Linked DNA regions of Homo sapiens: all the other regions are linked to region 3. The links come from fine-mapping of genetic effects on gene expression. A gene starts in region 3. Each other region holds a variant in brackets. All regions are shown on one strand. Distances are between the middles of the regions. Region 1 overlaps LY86-AS1 (LY86 antisense RNA 1). Region 2 overlaps LY86-AS1 (LY86 antisense RNA 1). Region 3 holds the start of F13A1 (coagulation factor XIII A chain). Region 4 overlaps F13A1 (coagulation factor XIII A chain). Region 5 has its middle 33 kb from the start of MIR5683.

Region 1 (6,421 bases), 73 kb before region 3:
TGGTGAGTGCCAGGGGATAGGGACTGAGCACTAATGACAAGGTGAGAACAGAAAAATGACCACAGGATTTGGCCACCTGATGGTCAGTGAGAACTTGACCAGAGCAGTTTCATTGGAGTGGTGGAAAGAGGTCTGTTTGAAGCAGGTTCAAGAAAGAAGGGAAGGAGAGGTGGAGAAAAAGGATGAAAGTCTTTTTAGTAGATTTCTGCAGTGAAGGAGAGTAGAGAAATGAAATGGGGTGGAATCTGAAAGGGGAGGGAAGGCAAGAGGAGGGTATTTTTTAACAATTGAGAGATACTGTAGGTAAATTGCACACAGACAGGAATGATTTGGCAGAGATGGAAAATGTGCTGCTACGAGAGGGAGAATGGGCAACTCTGGGAGTGTTGCTACTGGGGTGTGGGCAGGTGGTGGTTTAGACAGAGCATGCAGGAGTTCTTCTTGTTACTAAATATGGCATCCTCAAGAAGGCCTTTCCTGATATGCAATATAAGACAGATCTCGTCCACATTACCCTGTCCCATGTTGCTCTTTGTGCTTATCTCTATCTGAAATTATGTTGTTCATTTATTCTTTTATTGGCTTACTGTAATGTGAGCCCCATAAGAGCAAGTATCACCTCAGTCTTATTCAAATGCTTAGTCACATCGCTATCGCTTAGAACTAGACTGGATGTTATGGACACAAATGTTTGTTGAATAAATAATGAACTGATGAATGAATGAAAGAAAATAGCTTACTGGTGCCTTCTTCATATGATGGGATAGTTTTTCTGTAACAGGGTCAATTCTATCAGCCTTGGTCCCTGCCTAAGTGTGAGAGGCGGCAGTCATGTTGTATACCTGAACGACGATGGATCACATCTATATGCACGCTGCAGGGTCAACCACTTCCTTTAATTAGGAAATTTCACTTTTCAAATTGGGATCCTGGCAAAAGCACTTTCAGTGGAGTGATGGTGACAGAAGCCTGTTTGAAGTGGGAGAAAGAAAATGATCAGAAGGCTTTTGCCAACGAATATAGCAGGTCACTCCACTAACCCCACCCAGTTTGCCTTCCCTCTCAAATCCACCTGTTTCTTGATTTATTCCCTAACTCTCCCCAGCATTGTCCTCAACAAATAACTCAAATTCTGGCCTAAGTGAAAATTAATCCATTAATCTAATTGATTGATTGATTGCTTTGGGTTCTTTTTTTTTTTCTTTTTTCTGGTTACTATGTTTATTAGCCTTCCTGAGCAGAAGCAATTCCAATGCCTGTCTCCGAAGGGTAGTGGTACAAAAGGGAGAACCAGTCTCTCCTCCAGCTACGTGCCTGTGAACTCTCTGTGGGCGTGTGACATTACAAAAATAGAAGTGGCAGAGCAGTACTCTCAGCTACTTTGGATTGCAACACAGTGAAACGTAAAATTTGCTTTTGCAGTTGTTCTTTACAAAATGGTTCCCATTTAAATCATGAATGTTTTTCATTGTTTTTTCTTTCTTTTTAAAATCCATATTGGTTACTGAATAACAAGGTCAAGTTTGTTAATTCTGGTGGACTTGGCTGCAAGGTTGGCCAGTACTTACCACTATGTGAGCAGGTGCCCATCCTCCTGTTGAGAGCTTGCCTGCTCAATTACAGGGGCTAAAATGAATAGAATGTTGGAATGATTGACACCTAGTTGTGGACATTATTTTAATTTTCAAGTCCAATATTTTCCTATTTAATTCATGCTCAAAACAGTTCACTGGTGGTTCCGTGGAATTTAGCTTCTGATTTTGGTATATGAATCAGTATTTGCTATCAGTTCAAGATTTGGCACAGTGTTGCTTTTTAATATGATTAGAGTTTATAGTTTAAATCTAAATGTTAGTATTGAAATGAGTTTGCCTAACTAATGTAATAGGCAAATAGCTACTAGCCACATATAAAAGCTTGATTTAATATTTATTACATTCTGGAGATGAATGCTGTTAATTCTTAATTGTGTAGATGTGGATTATAAATATCATCAAATCCTCACTTTTCAGATTTTTGGCAGTAAATTATATTATAAAAACAAAGTTCACAACAAATGAGATACTGGATGTGCATAAAGTCTTGGTGTCCAGTATACATATTTGGAACATTCATATGGTTTGCAAGTGCTTGAATATTGCTTGGTCTAAATAAAGGATAAAGGATGCAGCCTTGTATGGGTAGAGAATATGACCTCGAATTCTAGGTCCAATCCCCTCACTGATAAGCTCTGTGCTCTTGGCCAAGTAATATTCGTAATCTTCCATTCCGAGCAAGCTCCAGTTTGCTCATCATAAAACAAGGCATAATCTAAATAAGTGGCCTTTATACTTTTCAGGATCATTTTGAATTGATGGCAGAAACTGTGTCCTATTCAATTTGTAGCCAATTGTTACAAATGTTATGTAGTTGTTTAATAAAAATATATTGTGTTAAATGAAACTGAAGACACCTTGAAAACTGTAAAGCAATATACACATAGAAATGGAATTGCAAAACGTGTTTAATTGTCTAATCCCTTTCTATTTTTTCCTCCTCCTCTTTATCTGCTTTCTCCTTTTCTACTCCAACCATTTTTCCTCTTCCTCTTCCTCTTCCTCTTCTTCTTCTTCTTGTTATAATAGAGAGTGAAAGAAAGAGCATTTTTTCCAGAGAAGCCTGTGTTTGCTCCCTGATATCCAGTACGAGTGCAATTCATGGCTAATGCAACTCATCCTGCTGGCTTTCTTAATTGTTTACTCCTTCACCCAATCATTTTCACTCACCAAACATTTCTGAGCATCTCTAGGGTACAGGTCTTGCTCTGTGGTTGATGTTAAGAGGTCAAGATGTGGCCCACATCTGTAAGCAGACTTGTTTTGGAGACAGGTGAGGAGAGCTGCTTAACTTTGGTCATGCACCATGGCCTGGCTGTTTAATCACAGAAAGGAAAAGTGAAATAGGAATTACTCTCCCTGACCCACATGTCCACAGCATTAGGAAATCAGGAGAATGGAGTACATTTTTCTCTTTCCATGGC[A/G]GTGGGCCTGTTCAGAAAGGCAGGAGAAATGCATAGAAACTTTCTAGATGGCAGAATGCTGTCCTCCTGCAGGGCACATGTGGTTCTGGAGGGGAAGGAGGTGACCAGACATCAGCGGGGGGGAAAAGAATAAATATTTGAGATTGTTTTGTTGATAAGAGACTGAGATGTCATTGAATACTTGTTGAAACACTCTTGGTTTGTTGAGGGTAAAGAGTTTTGACATTTTTTTTTCCAAATATCTACATCCACAGACACACAAATCCACAAATGCTACCAGAGGTACTAAAAGTCTTGTGGAATATGCTGCCCTTGAGATCCTTAAAACTGGGAGAGAGGTGCCAGGGAATGCCACCAAAAGGAAGAAAGAGATGACTTCCTAATGATGAAAATAATAACAATGATGAAAGAAAGAACTGGTAGATATGGTAGATATTGGATAATTCCTATGTGCCAGGGACTGTGCTAACTGCTTAATATGTATTATCTTCTTTAATTCTCAGAACAAGTATGTGAGGAGCACAAAGCTTATAAAGATGAGAAAAATGAGGCAACAAAGTTAAGGAAATTGCCTAAGATTACATAGTTTATGAAGTGAGATTTGAGCCTATCTAATCGACTCCAAAGCCCAGGCATTTAATCATTACATTATACTACATCTAGAGAGGTCTCAGAGACTCCAGCCATTCCAAAATGGAGTCTTTTGGTTACCACGTTACCTATATATTTATGAGATTTGGTTCTGCCACGTGACTGCATCTGCAAACACAAAACCCAAGCTTGTAATAAAGGAGTACTGTAATAACAGAGCATGCGAGGGAAACCAGTGGTGCCTGCAATTCCTTCCCTGCATCTTATTATATAGTAGCCATTGCCAGGACAGTGTCTACCCTCAAGGTGTGCAATTCCACTGAGAAAATAGAATTATTGTGGTCATACTGTGTTGAAAGGCTGCTCAGAGAAAGCAGAGAATGTACACTTTCGAGATGAGTGAGAATTTCATTCATTCATTTGTTCAAGAAATATTTACTGAGGACCTAACATGTGAAAGGTATCTTTCACCTAGTAGTGAAAGATACAGTCTCCACCACGAAGGGATTTACAGAGGGAAACAGATCAGAAAATCCATGCCACGCATGTGCTTGAATAGAGGAAACAGATCAGAAAATCTGTGCCACGCCTGTGCTTGAATAGAGGCATGCTCTGGGTGCCGTCAGCAAGCCAAGGAGGAGCATCAAACTCAGCCTTGAATCCAGGAGACAGGAGGGGGAAAAATAGGTAGCAGTTAGCCAGAAAGACTCAAGGGATATCTGCGGGAATCCCCATGGAGATCTCCCATGGGCAATAGGAGTTTGCCAGTTTTGAAAACCTCTCAGTCATTGGGTGATTTGCAGAACTGAAACAGGATGCTGCAAAGGTGTGAGCTTCAGTCTGCATAGGGCTTCAGTGCAGCTTCAGTCTCCAAAGGGCTTAGGTGAGACCCTCACATTTGGGTAAGACTTGTGGTGGCTTACACACTGTTTTTACACTATCATCTCATGTGATCTCCTTTGGGACAAATGTTATCATCTTCAGTTTACTGATGAGAATGCCACGTGACCTGCCCCTGTTCCCACGGTTCTCATAGGTAGGGCTACAATTCAGACTCTCATCCTGCACTCCAAGGCCCCTTCTCTGTACCACATGACCTCCCTCCAACTGGAGCGAAAGTTTGTCAAGAAGCTCAAGGCTTCTGAAAAGCCCCGAGGACAAAATACGCTATACTGGGTCTGGGTGGCTGCCAGGCATCAGGACCTGAGACAGTTGATGGGAGGCAAGCATGAAGGGCCTGGTGAGGAAGACAGCAGTGGCAGGAACAGGAAGGCAGGGGTGGATTCAGCATCTAAGAGGTCAGAGGGTCAGCCCAAAGATACAGTGACAGGGTTGTGTGGCTTTCATCCTCACTGGAAAAGTTTGAGTTTGTTGCCTCTGTTGGTCCCATGGGTGTTGACAAATCCTCCAGGGCTTATCAACTGTCCCACTGCCCCCACCAGCTAGGTCGGAGTCTCTTCTGACCAACCAAAATGAGTCTGAGCTATAAACAGCTAAACTAGCTCTGATGGTGCCAAGGTGCTGATTTGAGTCTTGCCTATACCATCCCTAACACAGTACACATTTACAGTATGATAATTGCCTGTTGTCTTCACTCCTCAAGTTCTCCAAGTCCAGTAGCTGGCATGGCGTGGGCATTGCTGAAAGGAATACAGCCCATGCTGAATTTTACCCATGATTAAGACAGGACTAGAGAAGCCCAGCCTCATGTATTAATTCTTCTTAATTTCAAAAACATGTATTGGCAAATTCTGGGTGTCGAGGACATCAGGAGAGTTGCATCCAATATGGATCATGGATTAGATTGTCTATGCCAAGGGAAATGACTTGCAAACAACTGGCCTTTGGGGGCTGCAATTATTCTTAAGCAATTGAAAAATTTGGAAATATGTGCAGTCATTTGTGGAAACAAAACACACCAGGAGTAGATCATTGTCTTATGTGTAGCCCAACACAGATGCAGTATCACGGAGCTGAGTGACTGCTGACTCCTAAGAAAGAGACTCACCGATAATTGAGGGGTGCACTGGCAATGGCTTACAGTCTGATTCTTTTAACATATATATGATATATATATATATATATTTATTTATTATATATATTAATATATAATATATATATAATATAATATTTCCCCAAAACCTGAACAGAAAGGGGGAAAGCAATAAGTCTAAGCTGCTAGGACATTATTTGAAATCAGCAAAAAGGGAACTGAGACACTGAGTTGAAGAATGAAGCTGTGAGGGTGTAACTATAAAAACATATTTGGCCTTTTAGGTGGGAAATACCCTTTGAAGTCATTCTGCCAAGAGGGGCCACCCAGCTAACAGCGCATGGGGCCAGAGGGCCTTGATGGCTAAAATGAAACCTAGTCTCTTTCTGGAGCCTTATGGAATCTGCGTTCTAGAGAGAGTGATTTCATGTCCTTGTTTGGAAGAAAGGCAGATTGGCATGAGCAGCCAAGGAGAGTTTTCAGATGGAACTCACTCTGCAGAGAGAGGGTGCCAAGGACTCCCGACTCCAAGGAAAATGTTGATGCTCCTCTGGCTTCTTTATCAGAAGAAGGGACTCAGCAATAAATCCCAGACTTAGTTTCCTCTCTGTTTTGTGACGAGATGCTTGTTTTACACTCTCTGGAGCCTCAGTGTATCTCTTTCTCTCACCGACTGCATTTTCTCTGCAGTGAAGTAGAGCCACCCTCCCCGGAGCCCTCACTCTCCAAGTGTGGGAGGGGCCATGGAGACCTGGTGGCAGGGAGTGGCATCTGCCCTCTTGGGAGCTGCAAAAGCTGCCTCCCCCTCAAACTGGCTC
Region 2 (6,421 bases), 63 kb before region 3:
CCGGGCGTGGTGGCAGGCACCTGTAATCCCAGCTACTCAGGAGTCTGAGGCAGGAGAATCGCTTGAACCCCAGAGGCAGAGGTTGTAGTGATCTGAGATATTGCACCATCACACTCCAGCCTGGGTGACAGAGCGAGACTCCATCTCAAAAAAAAAAAAAAAATTAATTCACTAATCATCAGAGAAATGTAAATCAAAACCACAAGATATCACCTCATACCTCTCAGGGTGGCTATTATCAAAAAACAGAAGACATCTTACGTTGCTTGTAACACAGTTCTCTTTTTCCCTATCCTCAATCTGGGTGTTGTTTCAGAGACACCAAAGATGAAGATTTTGCAGTTGATCCATTGTTCCAATCTGCTGATTCTTATTGTCTTCATTGTGTAAGCTATCACTGTAGGTAATTTTCTCAGCTTCACAGTATCCAAAAATGTAAATATCATGCCATCAAGGTCTTTATCTGAGACACTATTACATTTCAATAGGAAAGCCTCTTCAATGTAGATACTTCTACAAGCCAGGCCCAGAAACAAAGCAGTGAATATTGGAAATAAATTTTCAAGGAAGATTAAGGGGGTTAGCAATGTCAAACAGGGAGAACGAACTGTGTGGCTCCTGGGAAAGTCACAGAAAGAGTCACTTCACCCAGACAGGTGGAGCAGAAGCCAGGCTGTAGAAGTGAAGGTGACCTTGATGCACCAAAGCATTTCCTAAATGTAAACGCTTCCTGCTCACACTGACTTCCTGCCATAGATGATGTAGGTTCAAGAAATAATCTAATTCTTTAAGTGCTTTGAATTCCTTCAATTTCTACTAAATTCAAGTGCTCTCAGGAAACAAAGATGATGTTATTTTTCATTATTGATTTTATTCTTCTTCCAATGAAGTCACTCAGAAAAGATGTGAATGCCATGCTGAGTGGGTATTCTAGAACAGGCTCTGTTCTTTAGAAAAATAAATAAATAAATATATATATAAATAAATAAGCTCCGCTCCAGGCACTGAAAACAGATTCTGTTCTTCTGTAAAAGAAGAACAAGCATTTTCAGAATCTAATTTCTTATTTGCTTGCTTGCTACCACTATTCAGCTTACTCATAGTTTTTATCCATGGAGAGAAAGCAGCAAAACAAAGAACAGGAAATTTCACCACGCTGCAGGAACTGTCGAAATGGTTGTTCTGGGAAGAAGCTACATATTCACACTAACCACAATCCCCGTTCTGGATCCTCATTTCTTTTGTAGAATGATTGGCCAGAAAAGAATTGGACTTAAAATATCAACCCATATCAACAATAATGAAAATGAACAGGCTGATTATTAAAATAACATGTTAGACTATCTAGTAGACAACACCTTCTGTGTAAGAACTGTGCATGTTTTAGCTCATTTAATCTTCATAATCTCTAGAGCTCCATATGTTTATTATCCTTATTTTACAGATAAGAAAATGAAGGACACAGATAGAAAGTGGCAAAGCTGCATAGTGGACACCAGAGCCCCAGCTCTGAAATAGAATGTTACAGTGTCTGTACTTCACACGACAGTATAGGTGACTGTGTCCCACAGGTGAATTCACAAATGTCACCCCCATCTAAGCGTGGGGAACACACCCTTCAGAAGCATCTAGTGAATGCACGAAGAATAAATGAATCAATGTCAGCAACGGGGATGCTGTTGGAGAAGGAGAGTAACCTTGGAAATTCCATAAATGCTATTAATTCACACTAGCAAATCAGATCCATGAAACAATAAGGAAAGAAATTAGTTAAAAACCTGGCAGGTATTCTATAATTATAAATCATCATGATAACAGCAATATAACAATAATGAACATTAAACGTATCCTGCCACCAGTGATCTGTTGTTATCAGACAAAATCCAAGTGTTTGGTATAAGGGTCATAGGGCCAAGAAGCAGTTGCATTTCATAGTCAAAGGTCAGAAATGGAATTGTTGGATCAGTGCTGTCTGATAGAACTTTCTGTGAAGATGAAATGTTCTACGTCTGCTTCTTCAACATGGTAGCTGCTAGCTAGCCACATGTGGCCATTGGGTACTTGAAATGTGGCCAGTGTGACTGAAGAATTGAATTTTAATTTTATGTAATTTTAATTAATTCAAATTTAAATTGTTACATGAGGCTAGTTGCTCCTGTATTGGACAGAGCAGACGTTGAGAATGCAATGATCTTTTTTTCCAGAATCGTGTTATCCATAAGAAAAGCAAGAACTTGGTGAATTAATTTAGCATCAAATCTGAGCTTCACAGCCCTAGTATTTTCTCATTCTAACTAATAGGGGTCGGGCTGTCTACACATAAATGCCTCACCCAAACCTGAACAGAAAGGGGGAAAGCAATGATTCCAAGCTGCTAGAACATTATTTGAAGTCAGCAAAAAGGGGACTGAGACTCTGAGCTGGCTGGCTAGGGGGAGCATCCTGAAAGCCCCGTGGCCGACGACCACCCGAAATTCAGCGGGCAGTTGGTATCGTTTCACTGCAAACAACCCACAGCTGAAAAGAAATGAGCTTGCAAGTTCAGATCCTCAGCCAGCAGGTCAGACTGCAAGTGATAAAAGGAGCCATCACTCCCATTGGCTGTGGGGTGAAGAATGTCAGAAATGCGGTTTGTGAGAGAAAAAGAAACAGGTGCAGAGCTACATCTGTCTCCTTCTTCATAGTCCTCAGGGTTGCATCTGGGTTGCCCTGTGCACCTGAGGGGTGCATAACACCTTTTCCTCCCAGGGGGTGAAGGCCAAAGAGGCCCTGGGCAGCAACAATCAATTATACTGAGTCTCCC[T/C]CAGCTGACTCCAGCCTTGTTCTCTTTTACTGCTTCTCCTCTCCCTTCTTCTCTGTGTAAGACATATCTCTCTGCCCAAGCTCAGAGCTGGTTCCTGCACAGGGACAACAGATCTCAACTAAGCCCATCCCTTGGGGGCGCCCACAGGAGAATATAGGTGACTGTGTCCCACAGGTGCATCCACAAATGCCATGACCTATATTCTTGAGGCAGGGTGAGAACGATGAGAAAACTCGAAGAAGCTGCAGTCTGGCCTTTCTGCTGCAATAATAGATTCCAGAATTGGGAGGCAGCCCAAGGGCTGATCCGCGCCACACTACCCAAAGGAAATACAGCCCAGAGAAGGTGCGTGGGAAACAGAATTTGTATTTGGGTGAGAATGTGTCTATTTCTTCACCAAAGACCAGGGCTTGGCATGCTTGAAATGGAAAGGTATCCATTTTCTTACGGAGTTTTAGTGCCACCTAAAATTTGACAGACATTGACCCATGCCTAATCCTAATAAGAAAGCCATTCTAGAGAATTCTTCGGCTGCAAACAGAAAGGTAACTCAGATTAAATGTTGTTAGAGGCATGGTTGCATCAGTGATCTTTCCCCAGGGCACAGGGCTGCTTGGCAATCTATTGCTTCAGGAAAGTCAAGTTTATAAATATGAACCAAACCCATTTGACACACACAAATCCATGGTATGCATTCTTTATTTTCAAGTACATATCTGAAGGTTTAAGGCCTTTTTTCTCAGAAGCAGCCAAAAGCAGATGGTCAAAGTCTGATTTCTGGGTTCAGAGTCCTCTGAGAAGGCTGAGTGGCATAGCGTGATTTCAGGAGCAGCAGGAAAAGACATTGACTGTGAAAATGCCTCCCAGCCTCAGGCTGAGATTCCTCTCTTCCCCCTGACACTGCCTGAAAAGCACCAGGCTTTCCTTCGGGAGATTATCATTCTCTCTTCCTTCTCCGTGACTAGGAACACTTGGAGCTTGATGGAGTGCAGGGGCGTTTGCATTCAGGAGGAGGAGGAAGGGCAGTTTGAGAGCATGTGGGCCTAGGACCCAAGGATAGCAGAGAGAATGTGACAGGGGGTGGAAAGACATCAGGGACAAATTTTCCTACTCAAAAGTTTGCTTAGGCCAACCTGTTGTTTAAAATAAGGCTTTTGGTGATGCCCAAGCTCTGGACCCACATTTTCAGCTGCTTTTTTGATCGCTCCATCCTAGTGTCATATGCACATCTTATAAGCATGGTCATGTCCTAAACTGAACTTGGCCTCCTCTACTTCACAGCATGTCAGTGAATACCACCCCCACACACTCCACTGCCTGGCCTCAGGAACCTCAGCATTGCCTCCAACTCCTCCCTCATGTGCACCATGATATCAAATTAGTCAGCAAATCCTGGTTATTCTACCCCCACAGTGTCTCTTGGATTTATCTCCTACTGCATTTCCTATTTGCATTTCTGTTGCTACTGCCCTAATTCAGATCATCATTCCCTCTTGCCCTCACTAAAGCCATGGTTTCCCTTGGGTTTCCGTGCTGCTAATGCATCCTACACAATGGGAACAAAGGACTAGCCTGCTAAAAAATAATAACTCTAATAATGTTTCTCCCCGCTCAGAACGTCTGCTGTCTTCCTCTTGCATACAGAACAAAACACAAACTCCTTGGCCTAGATTTTAAGATTCTCCCTGTTATGGGTTGAATTCTGGTCATGTCTTGCCCTCCCACCCCCAAATTCCTGTGTCGAAGGCCTAACCCCCAATACCTCAGAATGCAACCATATTTGAAGATAGGACCTTTAAAATGGTGATTAAGTTACACTGAGGCCATTAGGGTGGACCCTGATCCAATGTCGCTGGTATCCTTATAAGAAGAGGAAACTTGGACATGCAGAGAGATGTGTGCATACATCTGTGACCATGTGAGGATGCAGTGATAGACAGCTTCGTGCAAGCCAAGGGGAGAGGCCTCAGGAGAAAGCAACCCTGCTGACACCTTGACTTTGGAGTTCTAGCCTGCAGAACTGTGAGGAAATCAATCTGGTATTTAAGGCACCCAGGCTATGGTATTTGTTATGGCAGCGCTAGGAAACTAGTAAACTCACCAGTTAGCCCCCATCTGCATGTTCTAACTGATCTTCTGGTACTTTCTCTCACTGCCCATACATGCTAAGCCCTAGCCTCGGAGGTTCTTATGTGATCTGTGGTCTTGAACCTTCTGTCTTTGCGGTGATGACCCCTCTGCATAGACTGCTCTTTCCACACTGCTTGCCTCTGGACTCAGCTCACACCTCACATCCTCTAACAACATGGAATGAGCCATTGCAGATGAACACACCTCTCCTTGCTCTCTGTTTGTTTTGCCTACCCCAAATCTATTCTCCCTCTACTTCTCCTTCTCATTCTTGTTGGAGGGATGAGCAGCAAAGTGCCTAGGTGAAAAAAAAATGCATTTCTCAGCCTCTCTCTAGGCCCAGAGGTTATGGAGCACTGGTCTGGCCAGTGAGATGTTAATGGAAGTAGGTGGGTGGGATTCAAGGAGAAAGCCTCTAAAATGGGCTGCAGATGCAGCTGGCATTGGTCTGCCTTTTGCTCTTTTCCTCCTTCCTTCTTTTATCTCCTTAAAACACAATGTGACACAGTGGCTAGAGTAACCACTTTGAAACTACAAGGGACCATCAAGATTGTTGCAGATGCTAAATGTCCTCACCACATAAAAATAAGTATGGAGGTGATGGAGATGTTAAACACCTTGATTTAACCATTTCACTGTGTATGCATAGGTGGAGATCTCACATTGTATACTGTCAATGTATACAATTTTTATTGGTCAATTACATCTTAATAAAGCTGGGGGAAAACAGTTGTTGCAAAGACCTTGACCCTAACATCTTTGAAGCCTTGAAGCAACACCAGCAACCATGAACTTCTGGAATTCTAGTTGTATAGGAAAAATAAAGTCCTTACTTGTTTGAGCCACTTTTCCCTAGGACTTCTTTTATTCGTAATGAAATATAATTCCTCACAGATAAAACTTCCATAGCATTTAGTTTCTTGAGCAAAACACCATCTGGCTTAGTGGAGCTGCTTGTATGTCCATCATCCTTCACTTGTAAGTTCTCCAGGGGCAGGAGGCCCCAGTTTTATTTATCTTGTGTCTTGCACCACTCCCAGTGCATGATGAGTGCTCAGTAAATACTTGTAGAATTTTCTGGGTCTTCGTGAATCTTAGCAAAGGGGAGAAGCCCATGTCAGCCATGGCTTTTCCAGCATGAGGCTTGTTCTGCTGCAGGTTTCAAGAGAACGAAGACATGCCATGAGGTTGTGGTTAAAGGTCAGCCATAAACCACATCAGTATGGATTATCTTCCTGAAGGAAGTTATTCCAACTGCACCATTTGGATCCAAGTCTGGGTCTTCCAGACAAATCTTCAGTTTCTCTCATGTTGCACATACATTTGGGATCAGAGCATCAATGCAGATCTTCCTTGATAGAAAGGGGACATATTTGCAACACACAAAATACCAGACTGGGCAGCTTAAACAACATAAATGTATTTCTCACAGTTCTGGAAGCTGGAAGTCCAAGGTCAAGGTGTTGTCAGGGTGGGTTCCTTCCGAGG
Region 3 (6,301 bases):
ACTTCCATGCCAGGCAGGGGGCATTCAGAAATAAAAGACACCATCCCATCCTTAAGGACCTCAGAGCCTATGCACCTGTGGAAGTTGCATCCCTAGCACAGTTCAAGATTCACTGTGTGACCAGAAACCTTTGTTCTGATGTCTCAGCCATATAACCATGAGGAATACCCTGTAAAATGAATGGGCTTCAACCGCATTCTAGGGCTTGGTGGCTTAGACACATTTTTATCGACTTTGTTTAGCACAAGGAAAGCCATTGCATTTATGATGCTCTTGAGGTTAGTGGTTTGGGGGAGTCAGAAAGCCAACCACTGTGTGTGTATGTTCACAAAGCCAATAATTAGTCTAAGGCCAAAAGTGACACCGTGGAGGTGGTTGTGAGGGTGACAATCCTGTTCTGAATGCACAACTCAACCCCAAGTCCCAGGGGTACCTGGCATCTGCGTAACCTCATCTGAAGGGTGCAAGGGTGGCTGCTCATCCTCCAACCCCACATGGATGAGGGTATCTTGGAATTCTAGACACTCAGATTTGATGTTTGCCAGGAGAACTACCAGAATATGATCGTTAAGGATTGGGGGAGGGTTTAAAAATACTGAGGAGACCTGAAATTGTATGAATGCTGAGGGGAAGCAGTGCTAGACATCTTTAGGGTCTTTCTCTAGCACTCAGCAAGGGATGTGGCAAAGACGGCCTTTGGATAGTTAAGTGGTCAGCAGCCTCTCTCCAGGGAACTCTGGCTGGAGTCCCTACCTTTTTGTACTCTAGTGCAGGTACAGCCAAGGAAACAGAAAATGATCATGCAGTGTGAGGAGCACTACAACAAGGCAAACTCCTTGCAAGACAACTGGGGAGTCAGTGGAGGGAGACTGGGCAGGGAAGAAAGATGGCAGAGGAAGATGATAGGGAAGAAAGATGGAAGCCAAATGGCAGAAGCTTAGTGATGAAGAGGAGGAGAGGAGAAACAACAGTGGAAGGCAGGGAGGGTAGATTGGTGTTGGGGGAAGGTTTTTTAAAAATACTGGAGACCTCAAATTGTATGGATGCTGAGGGAAAGAGCAGTGCTAGAGGCAGGGTCCAGCTTGTATAGGCCTTGTCAGTTTCAGCTTGCAATTTATCCAAAAAGCAAAGAGAAGTAGCCATATAAGGGCTTTGTGCAAATAATTTGATTTCGGATTTTAGCCCTGAAATGCTCATTCTGACTGCACTGTAGAGAATGGACTGGAAAGGGGTACATACACGGGTAGATTCAAGGGCTGTTTAAGAGGTAGGATAGAAAATATTTGCTCAAGGATCGGATTTGATGATTGAGGGAGAGAAACAAGGAAGCCTCAAGAATGATGCCCATGTGTCTGGTGTACCACCTGCGTGCAAAGTGATGGTATTCATTGAGGTAGGGAACTCCTGAGATGCACCAGGTTTTCCAGGAAAGTGATACATCTCATGTTAGACATGATGAGCGTGTGTTGTCACTGGGATGTGACAAATGAGGATAGCCAGTAGGCACTTAGATACGGGAATCTGCAATTCTGGAAAAGATCTTGGCTAAAGACCCAGATTTGGGAGGTGTCAGGATATAGATGGAATTTGAAAACTATGGGAGTTCCTCAGACAATCAAGGAATATTGCGCTGCACTGGAGGAAACCACAGAGTGTTCAATGTCAAGGAGGCCTAGGAAAAATACCTTCAAAGACAGAGTTCAATGCTTCCAAAAGGTCAGGTAAATAAGAACTGAATCCTGTCTTTTGGCCTGAGCACAGGCCTTGGAGACCGTGACCTCCACTTTCAGTAGAATGATGAGGCGGAAGCCAGATGGCAGATACTTAGTGATGAAGGGGAGGAGAGGAGGAGTAACAGCAGGAGTGGGGACATAGGTTGGGGGAGGTTTTTAAAAAAATACTGAAGAGACCTGAAATTGCATGAATGCTGAGAAGACCCACTATTAGCAAGCAGGAGCTTGAAGCTGCAAGAGGAAGAGTACGTAAGAGTCACAGCAAAGCCCCGGAGAACAAGGCAACGCAGAAGCCTGGTTTGGAGATGCAGAGGGAGGAGGGACCTTTCCAACTTCAGTAACAAGAAGAAAGAGGAAAAGATAGATAAGGTTGCAGGCAGGTTCATAGATTGGTAGCAGAAAATTGAGAGAATTTCTAACCAATGGCATCTTTTTTTTTCTTCTTTATAACATTGGGAGATTGAGTGGCAGGGTCAGAAATTTGAAGACAGTAAAGAAGGTTAGAAATAGCCATGTTTGACTGGGTGCGGTGGCTCACGCCTGTAATCCCAACACTTTGGGAAGCCAAGGAGGGTGGATCACCTGAGGTCAGAAGTTCGAGACCAGCCTGGCCAACATGGTAAAGCCCCATCTCTACTAAAAATACAAAAATTAGGCGGGCATGGTGGCATGCACCTGTAGTTCCAGCTACTTGGGAGGCTGAGGCAGAAGAATCACTTGAACCCGGGAGGTGGAGGTTGCACTCCAGCCTTTGCAACAGAGCAAGACTTCATCTGAAAGATAGAAAGATGAAAGAAAGAAAGAAAGAAAGAGTAAAAGAAAAAAATTAAAATTTTAGGGGGAAAATTTTCTAATTTTTGAACATGCACTAAAATGATTTTCAGAGAAAACCAAGTGTTATTTTCTAATCTGCATGGCATTATTAAAGATGTTTACTCATCTTCCTTGGGGCTAGGCATCCCATTCCTGCAGGAAGTCTTGTGGTTAGGCGGTGGCTGTGGCTCTGGGATGATTCAGGAATGCAGACCATGCCTTATTTGCACAGGAGGGACACGTTGCTCTCACTGCATGCATGGTCACAACTGTCTGTGTGACCTGTCTGTGGGAGGGCAGACCCCCCTCCTGCCAAGCCACAGTAGCAGCTGACCTGCCAGGCAAAAGCATTCCTTTGTAAAGGAAACCCTCCCAGACCCTCTGACCAAAGGGGACGGGTGGGGACTTCCTGGCACTGCAGGGCCCCTTGCCTGGTACTCCCAGCAACTGGTTGCGGTGGGGAGGGCAGATCTAGGGATGGGGATGGGGAGGAGAAGTGGGAATGGGAAATTGGGAGTCAGAGGGGCAAGTGGGAGAGAAGGGCGCACCTGCCGGGATAACAGGCCAGATGAAGTAAATAGAAAATCCTCTGAGCTCCCCTACTGGCTCCAGCTGTGGAGAAGGGGGAGGAGAAAACCCTGTGGGACAGGGGAGGAGGGTGAGGGCTCCTCTTAGGAAGTTATTTAAGAGCCAACTGTCTTGTCTTTCCCGAGTCCGTTTGAGGAAGTCCCCGAGGCGCACAGAGCAAGCCCACGCGAGGGCACCTCTGGAGGGGAGCGCCTGCAGGTAAGCCACCGACCCTGCACCCTATGAGCCAGGGCCCGCTGCGTCCACCTTCTGCACCTCGGTTTCCTGGTTGAACCAGCAAGCGGCTTGCTCTGGGCCCTGTGGCGCCGGTCACAGGCAGCTCCACTTGCCCAATCCTGGCTTCCCGCCCCCAACTCCGCACCTGCCCAGCCCAGCTTCTAAGCGGGACTTCTCTCAGGCTCTCGAGGCAGCTCTCCCGAAGCCGTTGCTTGCTTAGAATGCCACCAAATGGGGATGGGGGAGTTGGAGGTGCTTCCCCAAGGGACGAGCCCCCTTTCCTCAGGGAGCAGATTATGGAGCTGGAACACAAAAGGTGGAGGGAGTGGGGCCAAGTGAGAACAGCCTGCTAGACTGGAACCCCGCCGGCTTGGCTCCCCACTCCTGCGCGCCTCCCCACTCCTGCGCATCGCCTGCCTCCGTCCCAATTTGGAGCTGAACTCGAGCCACTTCTCCTCCTTAGACCCGCCCAGAAGCGAGGGCTCCTGCCCGCCGCACTCACCCAGCCAGGCGTGCACCTGGGGCTCCCCCCTTCTCCCCCTTAGCACTGTGTCTCCCGACAGCGCGCCACACTGTTCTGCACCCCTGGCAATGCCGCAGCCTACCTTCGGTATTTCTCACTAGAGGATGGCTCTCGCAGCCTTCTCCCTATCATTAACCCTTTTTCGCTCTTCTCCCTCCCTTCCCCCGTCAGCTCACCAATGACTGTAAATATATTTATCTATACTTATGGATACCCATTCACACCTTATGCATCCAAACACTCCTGTCTCCTTCTCAGACCAGACACCTTAGGCGTGGTTGTCTTTTCTCCAGCATGTTGTTAGTGCTCCACATGTCTCTGGAACCATCTCTCTACTCTGGTGGCCTCTATAATGGGGACTCTTCACCTCTTGGGGGTGTGCCTGGTTTTTGAAAATAGCCAAGTCTCCAGGAGTCATGACTGGGTAATCCAGGGGATCAAGGGGGAACCTTCACTGGGCCCAGAAACAAAGTCCCCCTTCATTTGGTCATTTGGTCAACAAGTACTTACTGGGCACTGACCGTCAGGTGTGTGTTGTTTAAACTGGCTCAGTGCCTGCACAAGCTCCAAGGGAAGGGGAAGCAGGCTTGGGGAATGGGAAATGTTGGCAACCCTGACTTCTTAAGCCTATTGATAGCCCTATTGAAAATTGCATGCCCAACCTCTCCACCTCCTTATCCTCCTCCATGTGGCTCAATTTCCAAAGCAGTTCCTACCTCCTCACCCCTAAGTGGATTTACTTATGGCTCTTCTTGGGCTCCACCCTAACCCTATCAGACTATAATCTATCAGAGCAAACATTCTGTTTTGTTCTCTGATGTATCCCATGTACCTAGATCACAGCCTGGCATGTCATAGGCCCTCAATAAATATTGGTTGAATTAAATTGCAAATGTAAACGCTTTAGAAGACAACATTTGTCTGGACATGGTTGTGTGCGTTTATTCTTAAAAGTGACTTATAATCTCATAAATCTGTATGAAATGAACATAGATACAGCACATGCATATAACAGGAAACATTTCTTGCGAAGATGCTGCTGTAGGATTATGGAGGGTGGGGGAATCTGGGTCTCCAAAAATCTTTTAATTTTTAAATTTCTTTGAATAAGCCCCTTTTCTTCTGCTTTCCATATGTTTTGACACATACAAAAATCTCCCCAAGATCCTTGGGGAACTGTATTCCATCATTAGACTAATCCTTGCTGCCACTTCTCAGTTTTTATTTATGCAAACGGCAAAATGTGTTGCTCAAGTGCTATCACACACAGATATATCTGTTTCTCTATTTTGGAATCCTTGTCTCAAATGTTACTCACTTTACATGCCTTTTCTGTTGTCTTCTTTTTTTTTTTTTTCTGAAGGACCTTGTAAAGTCAAAAATGTCAGAAACTTCCAGGACCGCCTTTGGAGGCAGAAGAGCAGTTCCACCCAATAACTCTAATGCAGCGGAAGATGACCTGCCCACAGTGGAGCTTCAGGGCGTGGTGCCCCGGGGCGTCAACCTGCAAGGTATGAGCATACCCCCCTTCCCCACCACTCTGGGTCCAGGCACAGCCGGGCCCTGGCCCCTCTTCCCTGCAGGTAAACATCCTCTGTCTCCACTGGGGTTCCCACAAAAGGAAGCCCCCTGCCAATCTCTGGTTTTATAAAGGAAGAAAGCAAAAGCTTTCTTTTAAGTGGTGAAAGCACCGAAGACCCAGAGCCTTGTCCCAGTTCTGCCCCTTACTGACCTTGTAACCTCAGAGAAGTTGCTTTGTCTTTCTGCCTCTCAACTATTTCCTCTACAAAACCAGAGTGCTGGATTAGCTAGGGCCTCTTCCAGCCCTACTGCTCAATGCTTTAGAGAATTTTCTCTAGCTGGAATATTCCACTTCCAAAATATTGTGGCTGTTTTGATTGTCTGGCTTGCACCTCCTTCCTTCTCCCTCCTCCCTCCTCCATCCATTGCTGTGAATTTCAGAGCCGGGGAGAAGTGCCAGACTCTGACAGTAATAGAGATAGAAGCCCTCTATTTCTCTCCAGAGCAGCCTGGTGAGCTGGCAAGGCAAGCTGCTTCCCCAGCCTCTTGCCTCTGCCTGATCCCTAGAAACCTGTTCCGGGTACAGCAGCCGGCAGCTGACCTCCTCTCAGCCCTGTCAGTGGTGACAAGGTCCAGGTGCCAGCACTGGTTTGGTGATACAGACATCATTCCCCTGGGCCATGGCAGGGACATTCAGACTCATGTCCCCGAGTGGCATTGAGCAGGGAGTCTTTTTTGTCAATAACATTCATGCACCAAAATCTAATTTTACTCCTAAGGGTGTTCTGTGCTGGGTTTCACTGGGGATAAACACCTATTTGCTGGGATAGGTGAGCATGGTCATGCTGGAGCTGTGTGGTCGATTCCCCTCATTAGAAGGAGACCAATGCCTGAAAGCCCAGATTGA
Region 4 (5,000 bases), 91 kb after region 3:
TGCTTCAAGATTTAGAGCTCCTTTTAGCAGTTCTTGTAGTGGTGGCTTGGTAATGGTGAATTATCTCAGCATTTGTTTGTCTGAAAAAGGCTGTATCTTTCTTTCATATATGATGCTTAGTTTCGCTGGATACAAAATTCTTGGCTGATAATTGTTTTGTTTGAAGAGGCTGAAGATAGGGTTCCAATCCCTTCTAGATTGTAGGGTTTCTGCTGAGAAATTTGCTGTTCATCTGATAGGTTTTCTTTTATAGGTTACCTGATGCTTCTGTCTCACAGCTCTTAAGATTCTTTTCTTTGTCTTAACTTTGGATAACCTAATGACAATGTGCCTAGGCAAAGATCTTTCTGCAATGAATTTCCTGGGTGTTGTTTGTGCTTCTTGTATTTGGATGTCTAGGTCTCTAGCAAGGCCGGGGAAGTATTCCTCAATTATTACCCCAAATACATTTTCCAAGCTTTCAGAATTCTCTTCTTCCTCAGGAACACCGATTATTCTTAGCTTTGGTCATTTAACATAATCCCAGACTTCTTGGTGGCTTTGTTCATATTTTCTTATTCCTTTTCCTTTGTCTTTTTGGACTGGGTTAATTCAAAGAACTTGTCTTTGAGCTCTGAATTTTTTTCTTCTACATGTTCAATTCTATTGCTGAGACTTTCCAGAGCATTTCGCATTCGTAAAAGTGTGTGCAAAGTTTCCTGAATTTTTGCTTGTTTTTTCTTTAAGCTATCTATTTCCTTGAATATTTCTCCCTTCACTTCTTGTATTATTCTTTGGATTTCCTTGCATTGGGCTTCACTTTTCTCTGGTCCCTCCCTGTTTGGCTTAATAACTAACCTCCTTAATTCTTTTTCAGGTAAATCAGGGATTTCTTCTTTGTTTGGATCCATTGCTGGTGAACTAGTGTGATTTTTGGGGGGTGTTGAAGAGCCTTGTTTTGTCATATTACAGTTCCTTCTCATCTGGGTAGGCTCTGTCAGAGGGAAGGTCTAGGGCTGAAGGCTGTTGTTCAGATTATTTTGTCCCATGGGATGTTCCCTTGATGTAGTACTCTCCCCCTTTTCCTATGGATGTGGCTTCCTGTGAGCCAAATTGCAGTGATTGTCTCTCTTCTGGGTCTACCCACCCAGCAAGTCTACCCAGCTCTGGAGTGACACTGGGCATTGTCTGCACAGAATCCTGTGATGTGAGCCATCTCTGGGTCCCTCTCAGCCACCGGAATAGCGCCTATTCCGGTGGAGGTGGCAGGGGGTACAATGGACACTGTTAGGGTTCTTAGCTTTGGTGTTTAATGCTCTATTTTTGTGCTGGTTGGCTCCCTGCCAGGAGGTGGTGCTTTCCAGAGAGCAGTAGCTGTGGTAGTATGGGGAGGAACCAGTGGTGGGCAGGGCCCCAGAACTCCCAAGATTATATGCCCTTTGTCTTCCACTAGCAGGGTAGGTAGGAAAGGACCATCAACTGGGGGCTGGGCTAGGCGTGTCTGAGGTCAGACTCTCCTTGGGCAGGTCTTGCTGCAGCTGCTGTGGGGGATGGGGGTGAGATTTCTAGGTCACTGGAGCTGTGTACCTAAGAGGATTATGGCTGCCTCTGCTGAGTCATGCAGGTTGTCAGGGAAGTTGGGGGAAGCTGGCAGTCACAGGAGTCACCCAGCTGCCATGCAAACCAAAGGGCCAGTCTCACTCCCACCGTGCCCCCCTCAACAGCCCTAAGTCCATTTCCAGGCAGAGGGCAAGATGGCCTTGAAAACCTGACCCGGTCTACCCACCTCCCAGCTGCAAAAGAAAAGGGTTTGGTTCTTCCACACCTGTGGAGTCTGCACACCGGATTTGCACCCTCCCCCAAGTTTTGGCCAGGAGGCTTCTCACCCCATTCAAATTGCTACAAAGTTCAGCTAGAGATTTCCTTCTCCATGTGGAGTTTTATCCTCTGCTCCTCTGTCCACCTTTCTGATGGATCTCTGTGGTGCCAGG[C/T]AGGGATGGCCTGCTAGGGGACCTAGCAAGCTCCCAGGGCCTTTCTGCTGCTTCCTCTACCCCTGTATTTCCCTCAGCTCTCCAAGTTGACCCAGCACCAGGTGAAGTCGGAAACTTCTCCCACAAACAGACCTTCAGCTTCTCCAGTGGAGGTTTGTGTTCGGGAGAGGAGGGTCTCCCTTTCCCACTTGCATAGTTGGGACACTCACAGTATTTGGGGGGGTCTCTCGGGTCCTGCAGAAGCAGTCTGCTTCCTTCAGAGAGTCTGTGGTCCTCTCAGGATTGCTGGTTTGTTCTTGCAGTCGACCTGGATCTAAAATTTACAGCACGAGCCTCCACATGCTGCTCTGTCCAGAGCTGCAATCCAGTCCTGCCTCCCATCCACCATGATGATCCAAATCCTTGGGTTCTCTATTTTAAGGACACTAATCATCCTTATGTTGTATCATCTTTGTTTTCCATAACTATGGTACTATTAGAATCTCTCTAAATAATTCATCACTTTGGTTTTTTATTAGTATTTTCTTTGATATCTCAAGTTTTCTTCTATGTCATTAATTTTTATTTTTAATAATATGTATTCTGTTTCTTGCAGTTTATAATTTATTATTAGCTCTGTAATGGTATGATTTGGTCCTCAATTTGTTGCCTTGGTCTGTGATCTCCTAAAAGGTTGTGAGAAAAATGACTTATGCTCCTTAATTTCGTTTTCTTCTATGTATATTTTTTCATGATCTCTCCCTCTCTCTCTTTCTGTCTCTTCCTCTGCATGCAGTTTCTTTTCCCTATATTTATGCTCAAACTTGCATCATTCTTGTCTCTAGACGTTCTATTTGCTGTAATAAATGAAATTCTTCTCAATCTAAGGTTAGTTTGATCTCACTTCTGAACTACAATTTGAGGCCAATGTACCACATTCTATCTACTCTTCAGTACTCTGCAAGAGATTGGAGTGAGGACTACAGTATTAGAAGATGAACAATCTTTGGTATCATGCTTAGGGTCTGCTCTTTCCCTTAAGATTCTCCTACATCTGTCACTCCAGAACCCACCCCCACAACTGGAGGCATATCTCAGTTCCATTGGGGGATACGCTCAGCTTGTATTATTTCCCAATTGTGTTCCAGAATCTCTACCTCTTTTAAGGTGCAGATACTTTTTCACTCGTTTCTCCACAGCAGGTGTTTCCACCATTCTGTTCAGAACAATAAAAAGATCAGCTTTTTTTTTTTTTTTTTTTTTTGAGACAGGATCTCACTCTGTTGCCCAGGCTGGAGTGCAGTGGTACAATCAGCTCACTGCAACCTCTGCCTCCCCGGTTCAAGCGATTCTCCTGCCTCAGCCTCCAGAGTAGCGGGGACTACAGGCATGTGCCACTATGCCCAGCTAGTTTTTGTATTTTTAGTAGAGATGGGGTTTCACCATGTTGGCCAGGCTGGTCTTGAATTCCTGACCTCAAGCAATCTATCTGCCTCATCCTCTCAAAGGGCTGGGATTACATGCCTGGCCAAAAAGATCAGCATTTTGATTATATTTATTACTTTCTAGAATTTAAAATATAAATTAGAAATCTCAGGTTTTTGTTGACTAGCTGGTAAGATGGTTAAGGTTAGGAGCTGAGCCATGTTGCCTCTCTGCTTTACTCCATAGTCCTCATGTTTTGTTGGGACCATGTTTTGAAGTTTATTGCATTATGCTGATAATGACTTTTAGGGGTTTTTGAAATTTTTTTCTAATTTTGTAGGTATTATGGGAGGGCAATTTAGTGTAGCCTTAATGAAGTTGAATAATGCCTCCTGTACGTAGTCCTGGACTTGTATTGTCTACTTGACCACCAGTGACTCAAGACCAAGACACTTTATTCTGCCACTGGTCAAACCCTGAGATCATGAGAGGGTGTTAAAACAGCCAACTGTGGCATGAAAAATGACAAACATGTCCTCCAAACATATCTTGTTGCTTATGAGGGGAGATATTATTTTAACCCTTTACATCTGTCACTAAAAACTTACCTCTTTCATGGCCTGAGCTCCCTAGAAATCAATGTTCTAATTAGAAAACAGTAGCTAATCTGCCCAAATGCTAATAAATGAGGGTTGTGATTTATCTAGCAACAGGGGAACAGCTCAGCATTAACAATTAAAAGGTCTGTAGAGGACAGAGCTTTTTTTCCTTACTCTTCCCCTTAGCTGATTGAGTTCAGCCCTATGCTATAAATAGCCCTTGTAATTAATGGCTATCTGTTTGAAAATCAGTTATCAGGACCACAGTTTAGGAGCCTTTACCTCTGAAATTCATAGAGCCTATTTTATGTCTCAGTGATAAGGGAATGATAATGTGAGTTCAAAGCTAAACCTACCTACCCACAAAGACCAAACCACATCATAGCCTACCAAGGCATTCTTCAATCTTCACGATAATGGATACAGATTTTTAAATAATCAATCCAACTGCAAGGAGAAGTACTGATCTTTAATATAGCCATAATGTTTGGCTAAAGCCTGCTGCACTCCAGTCATTTCATGACTCTATAAGCTAAAGTCAAAATTTATATCAAAGGCATGAGTTTGCAATTAGCTGAGCAAGGTCTTTTAGAGACCCCCAAAGAGTTCATTTTTTCCTACATTGAACAAATTAACTGTGTGGTTCATAAAGTTCTTCTTCACTTTAACCTGACTGGACACAGAGTTAAAGGGGGAAGATAGCATGTCTAAACCAAATTGAATAGTGATCTTCTAGACAACACTCCCCAGAAGGGACCCTCCTTGGGAAATACCACTCAGTGCTAGAGTAAATCTCAAATTTCAGTGAAGGCTTTGTCATTCACAGTAAAAGATGCTTGCACATCTTGCATGTTTTCTTCTAGTATTTTTTTTATTTCGTTCGGTATTGCCTACTTACATAATACCCATGCAGAGCTCCTAGAAGGTCCCAGAGCCTGCCATATTGTTTCATGACACTACACATTTATTAAAACTGTTTCCACTATGTAGATGGCCTTTTCTGGCCAGTTTGCCTGTCATCTCCCTC
Region 5 (6,421 bases), 180 kb after region 3:
CTCAGGTCATGCTTATGTCTGTCTTTGAGGCAAAATTCTCTCCAACCCAGTATCGAAAAGAAATGAACTGCTTCTAGAGACATTCCTTCACACCTTAAGGCAAGTTCGTCCTTCTGTTCTCACCACCCCAACTCATTCAGACTCAAGTTTGCCTTCCCAAGCACCTTCCTTTCTACATAAGAATGAAACAAACAAAAAGCCTTTTAGTGTGTCTGTAAGAAATTACTTTGTCGAAACAAACAAATAAATGAGAAACAAAGCGCCTCAGTTGCATCGGGAAAAGGGACAGGGAAACTGTGTTCACCTCAATTGCCAGGAATTATACACAGCATTTTCTAGCTCTAAAGACAATGAACATTTTTAAAAGATACTTGGTAAACTAGCTGTTGATACTACTCATGAACTCCCATTCATTTTCACACTAATCATTGTTCTAGGACTTACATAATTACCTAAGTAACGTTTCAATAGTCCCAAAACTAACATAAGGGGTCCTAATGAGCATTTCCTATTAGTAAACAGCATGTACCTATAAACGAAGAGGATTCTTTCCTCTCTTTTCTGATTTGAGCAAGTTTAGACAGTGGGAAGGTACAATATGAAAAATATGTTACCACCAGATTTAGGATTTGTTATAAAGGTGGCAGATTTTAAATGACCATAAAATGATTGTCACTCTTTCCATTGAGAAATGGGGACCACATTCCCTCTCCTGCCCTTGATTTTAGGTGGGCCGTGACTGCTTTGAAAGAATGTGATAAAAGCAATGCTGCCAGTTCTCAGCTCCAAGCCTTGGAAAACTGGCAGTTTCCACTTATTTTCTCTTGAAATCCTCTTCGTAGAAGCCCTGAGCTTCTGCCTAAAGGCTCAACTACTCTGAGACTCCCATGCTGGAGAAGCCACGGGTATACACACTTCAACCCTGCTCTGAGCTCAGCCTTCCAGCGACCTCCGCCAAGGCACCAGACCTGATAATGAGGCCATCCTGGGCGCTCCAGATCAGCCCATCCACCACCTGAACACCACCAAGTGACCTCAGTCAATGTCACTTAAGAATCACCCTGCCCAGCCTTGCCCAAATTCCTGTTCCACCAAATGATGAGATAGGATTAAATAGTTGGTTTTTAATTTTTGATTGATATATAATATACATATATATTTATGGGGTTATATGCATAGAATGTATAATGATCAAGTCAAGAAGTTTAGGGTATCCATCACCATGAGCATTCATCATTTTCATGTGATGGGAATATTTCAAGTCCCCACTTCAAGCTATTTTAAAATGTGCAATCCGTTGTTGTTAACTGTTATTTTAAGCCACTAAGTTTGAGGTCATTGGTAATGCAGTAAAACATTACCAGAACGCTAAGCTTAACAATCTCAGGAGAGAGAGAGAAATTTACTGGTTAATGCTATTTTTTGCTTCGAGGAAATGCTTAGTGTTTTTGAACTTTATCTGTTCTTTCTGAAGACTATGTACAGATATGCAGCATGCTGCCTCTCAGAAGCCTCCACATATGTCAGGAGACCTAATGTGTACTCCCAAGCATAATAGTTTAAACATTGCCATTTCCTTTAACTCTTCCTGCTAAATTGTGGTTTTATGGGCCTTTCACCATCCTTATCTCCACCAAGATTTGGTTAGATGCCATTAGGAATAACTTGAAGATGAGAGAGAGAGCACAGTGATGAAAGATGACATTTCTTTTTCACAAAAACCTAGGAAATGAGGCCTTCCTGTGGAGAATCTTGAAGAGATACCAGATTCACTAGCAGCCCCACGAACCCAGCCTACCTGGGAACTGAAGTACTCAGGAATGGCCAGTCTGGTCATAAGCTCCCGTTCTATTTTTTTCTTCTTGGATATTTAAAAATGTCTTGATGTGCACATAGATTTATACTGATATAGCTCAAACTATGTGAAACAAAATAGAATAAAGTAATTTACTTTTATATTGGTTATACCTAAATCCAAAATCTGCAGCCCCTGGAATTAGTAAACATAATAATGGCCTGGAACCAAGTGTTTCTGATAAAGGCGAGTCAGAAACCAGCCATGGGTGTAGGAAGTCAGTTGCACTTTGGCATGACTGACAGAAGTGACCCGAGATCCATCTTGCCTTCTAGCAATTTGTCCTCAGCCCTCACCGGAGGTCACAATGACCAGCCATTCTCCTGCCCAGACTCTTTCTACAAGGACAATTTATGCCACAGCTGAGACCCCATGTTTTTGTGTAAACCCTTTCATCAGAGCACGCACTGCCCAAGACCCACGGAAGGCCCAAGTCTAGGTGGTCTCCTGAGGTCCCTGACAGAATACACTGGGAGTGCTTCTCTCTGGTAAATCTTCATTGTTCTTTCCCATCAATCGGTATGACACAGCCCTCAGGAAGGGGAAGGGCATCTGATTTGCCATTCCATTTCTTTTTCCTCAGAAGAAAGATTCCTAAACTTCATAGAGGATGTCCTTCTATTGTGAACCATAGCATTTAATGTGGTTTTTGAATGTTTTCCTGCCACAA[T/C]GACATTCTTATTCTCCTACTTTTGATGACATTTTATTATTCACTGTTTCTTTACAGTTTCAGGTGGTAGGCCCATATGGCTAATGTTACCCACACCTCAAATTTGAACATCTCTATTTTCCAGGGACTTTCAGGTGACAAGTAAACACAACCATTAAGCATCTCCCTATCCAAACCAAGCCTATCGAGGCTGAAGCACCCATGTATTGGCCTGCTACTTCCAAATTTGCTTTTATATACATTACTTTTATTATAGACACAGGCTAAGCTCATATGATTCTGTCGTCTTGGCTATAACCATGAATTCAAAAATTATGGCTCAAATAAAGGAATCTGCCTTTTATGCTTATCATTAAAACGAAATGCTGGGTATCTTCAGTAATATTCCAATTATCTTTATTGAGTACACAATGCTAAAAACTCATATAGATCAACAAAATATTATTACTGATGCAAAATTGAAAAATAGATATAATACAATAAAACCTGTCTCTCTGATGAAAAACAATAGGCTTCAGTGATATCTTCAACTAGCAATACTAACCAGAAAATGAAGGCTATTAACTGGGAAAGTTAAGCTTAAAAAAAGAGAAAAGCCCAAGTTCGTTTAAATCATCTAAATATAAAAGCATTCTACTTCTACCATTTCTTTTCTTTAATCCTGGGTATCTCCTAAAAGTCTAATTTAAAGATAACCATGGTATCCATGCATTCTAAATACAGATAAAATATAAAATATAATGAAGTACTGACTGTATCTTGCTTTTTGAAAATTAACATATCAGGCAATTAGATATCCAAAAGATTATGATCACTGTTATTCTTCTTATTATTAGTAGTAGTATTACCAATAAAGTATGCTTTTAAAATACCATGGGATAATTTGTCTTGTGCTAAACTGAGAGGCAGCAAAGAAGCCTGCTGACATAGTGAAATAAAAGTTGGTCTCAGACACTGCTGGTAAAGTGTAAATTGGTGCAACCCCTTTGGCAATCTATTTAGCATTATCTGCTAAATCTGAACAAATGCTATGACCCAGTAATCTTACTCCCAGGCATATTTCCAATAGAAATATGCTAAAATAGAATGGACAAATAAACCGTGGCATATTTACAATTAATTGTAACACAGCAATGAGAATACTAAAAATATATAATAAGATAAATAGCTCCATAAAATACAATACTATATAAAATATTACAAGATGAAAGAACTGCAGCCTAACGTTGAAATAAAGAAACCAGACACTAAATAGTACATGTCATAACATGATTCTATTTATTTAGAATTCAAAAATAGGCAAAACTCATCTATAGGTTAGAAGTCAGGATGGTGGTTACCCTTGGAAGAGGGACTCAAGGGACACAAGAGAGCTTCTGGGAAACCAGAAGTATTCCATTTCTTGATCTGGGTGTTGTAAAACTTCATTGAAATAGACATTTAGGCTGGGTGCGGTGGCTCACGCCCATAATCTCAGCATGTTGGGAGGCCAAGTCGGGGGGATTACCTGAGGTCAGGAGTTCTAGACCAGCCTGGCCAACACAGTGCAACCCCGTCTCTACTAAAAATACAAAAATTGGCCAGGCGTGGTAGTATGTGCCTGTAATCCCAGCTGCTCAAGAAACTGAGGCAGGAGAATTGCCTGAACCCACGAGGCAGAGGTTGCAGTGAGCTGATATCGTGCCACTGCACTCCAGCCTGGGCAACAGAGTGAGACTCCATCTCAAAGAAAAAGGAAAAGAAATACACATTTATTATTATATTCATTATTTATTGCTCTTGTGACATATTACCCCAAAACTTAGCTGCTTGAAACAATATTTATAGCTCATAATTTTGTAGGTCAGGAATCCAGGCATGACTTAGCTGGGTCCTCTGGCTCATGTTTGCTCACCAGGCTGCCATCAGCTAGCCAGAGATGTAGTCTTATCTGAAGGATTGAGTGGGACATGATCTGCTTTCAAGCTTGTTCACAGGTTCCACACAGACTGGTAGACTGAGGGCCTTGGTTCTTTGCTAGCTGCTGGTGGGAGGTCACTCTTAGTTTTTTGTCATGCGAGTATCTCTCCAGGGCAACTCACAACTTGACATTTGGCTTCATCATGGTGAGAAATCAAGAGAGCAAGATAGGGCAGGCAAGAGAGAAGCCAAAATCTTTTTGTAGCCTAATCTCAGAAGTGACAGCCCATCATTTTTGTTGTATTCCATGTACTAAAAGTGAGTCAGTGAGTCCAGCCCACAGTCAAAGGTTGGGAACTATACAAGGACATGGATATTAGGAGGCAGGGATCATTGGGGACCATCTTAGTTATGCTTCAATAACAGTAACAGAAGAAAATTATTCTTAGAATTGCCAAGATAAAGCCACAGGGTCTGGCTATACAAATTTTTTTTAATTTGTTTCATATTGTTCTTCTTCCTTGGCTGAAGAAGCTGTCCATGAATATGTATTGAGTCCTATTTCATTTTCTTGGGGCTTTTCCCTCTTTAACATCAAGCTTCCAGATTTACTTCCTGACAGGACACCATCTGACCAGACTCAACTGAGCTGCTTTGACCTCCTAGTCAAAGGCTTAAGTTCCCTAGCTCAAAAAACAATGTCTGGATGCCAGAGAGGGAGGCACTGCTGTTCTCACTTTAGTAGCACATTATAGATAGAGTTTGGAAAAGGACTTGGAAAACCAACACTCTTCATTAGTAATATTTGCCCATATCAATTGGAATTTGCTTCAGTGTGCATAAAAATAAGTAAATAAAACAGAGATTGGATGGCAGACCACATGTTAACACATGGAAAATCATACCCTCTATGCCTAAAGTTGATTATCTCTTTTACCTCTGTTGTGGCCTGGCATGGCTTCCCTGACAATTTCTACCAAAGGTTGAAAGGAATTGTAGTATCTGGCTGACCCATCATGATGATTTCCTTTGCCAATAATGACTACAGTCCCAAATGACTAAAACAGAGCCTATCTAGGCAAGCATCCACTTTTTATAGGAGCTCTGCAGTTCTGGTGTATACATTGCTACCTGGTACAGAATAAGCATGTATTGAATGAATGAATTATCCTAATGGTCATCTAATGGAGTAGGGAAAAACTGTTACTCTCCCTGGTACTCCATAGTTCAGGCTCTTCCTGTTATTGGTTACCCCCATTCAATAATTTTTTTATGCTCCCAAAATGCCAAAGCCCTTTTTCTTCAGGCATTTTGTTTCCTTTTTCACCATACTGGGTCCTCAGCATACAAGCCCAAATAATATCAAAGACAACAGATGTCAAGATAAAATGAGAATCAGAACTTCACTATTGAGCATAGCTCATTTGAACATATCCCATTGTCTATCTGCTCCCCTCTGGAAATAAATCATCCTAACCTGAATTATCCTAACCAAGTTTCCCAGCAGCCTACCTCCCATTTTCCCGTGCAGAAGACAATAATCAGAAAATCAGAAACAGTCCTTTTCTCTTTCCCATACTACCACCAAAGTAGCTTTAAACAACTCTGCAGGAAAGATTCTGTCACTCAGAGCTCCTTTTGTTACTGGGATTGGAGTTCAGGGATGAGGCCAGGTTTTAAAAATTTAGAGATAAATATACAGAAAAAGAGAGAAGTTGAACTTTCATTTTCTATCTCAAAACCAAGCACCATGAGCTGACCTTCCCACAAATGCAGTTTCCAGCCACTCAAGGAGGTAATCCCCAACTCTGGCAGTGCCCAAGCAGACGCTAAGACTCACCTTCTCTGATGGGAATGGTTTCATGAGGGTTGCTAAACTGGACAAGAGAATGGAAAAGAGAGTTACTAAAGTCACTTCCAACTCTAAGAAGCTATTATTAAATGGGTCTTTATTTGATATAACACCTAACATTTTCCCATCAACAATCTGAGCTGAA

Evidence for each region. PIP is the estimated chance that this variant, and not a neighbour inherited with it, causes the effect.
Region 1: its variant is the best candidate, but not a certain one, in a credible set for the expression of F13A1 in whole blood (INTERVAL, PIP 0.79).
Region 2: its variant is the best candidate, but not a certain one, in a credible set for the expression of F13A1 in whole blood (TOPMed, PIP 0.55).
Region 4: its variant is the best candidate, but not a certain one, in a credible set for the expression of F13A1 in nasal epithelium (TOPMed, PIP 0.76).
Region 5: its variant is the best candidate, but not a certain one, in a credible set for the expression of F13A1 in whole blood (INTERVAL, PIP 0.73).

What each region holds. Positions count from the first base shown.
Region 1 is chr6:6,390,921-6,397,341 of GRCh38, reverse strand. The region is part of intron 4 of LY86-AS1 (LY86 antisense RNA 1); the gene reads left to right. Among named protein-coding and RNA genes, the nearest start is that of F13A1, 73 kb to the right of the region's middle. RefSeq lists enhancers at 4,541-4,740, 4,871-5,040, 5,989-6,038. The variant A/G (reference allele first, on the strand shown) is at 3,020.
Region 2 is chr6:6,380,948-6,387,368 of GRCh38, reverse strand. The region is part of intron 4 of LY86-AS1 (LY86 antisense RNA 1); the gene reads left to right. Among named protein-coding and RNA genes, the nearest start is that of F13A1, 63 kb to the right of the region's middle. The variant T/C (reference allele first, on the strand shown) is at 2,804.
Region 3 is chr6:6,317,618-6,323,918 of GRCh38, reverse strand. It overlaps F13A1 (coagulation factor XIII A chain), which reads left to right and starts at 3,257. Exons shown (of 15, transcript NM_000129.4): 1 at 3,257-3,332; 2 at 5,237-5,384. The coding sequence starts at 5,255. All of the region lies in intron 1 of LOC124901253 (a long non-coding RNA gene), which reads right to left.
Region 4 is chr6:6,226,945-6,231,944 of GRCh38, reverse strand. The region is part of intron 6 of F13A1 (coagulation factor XIII A chain); the gene reads left to right. Among named protein-coding and RNA genes, the nearest start is that of MIR7853, 60 kb to the right of the region's middle. The variant C/T (reference allele first, on the strand shown) is at 1,971.
Region 5 is chr6:6,132,671-6,139,091 of GRCh38, reverse strand. No RefSeq gene overlaps it. Among named protein-coding and RNA genes, the nearest start is that of MIR5683, 33 kb to the left of the region's middle. The variant T/C (reference allele first, on the strand shown) is at 2,526.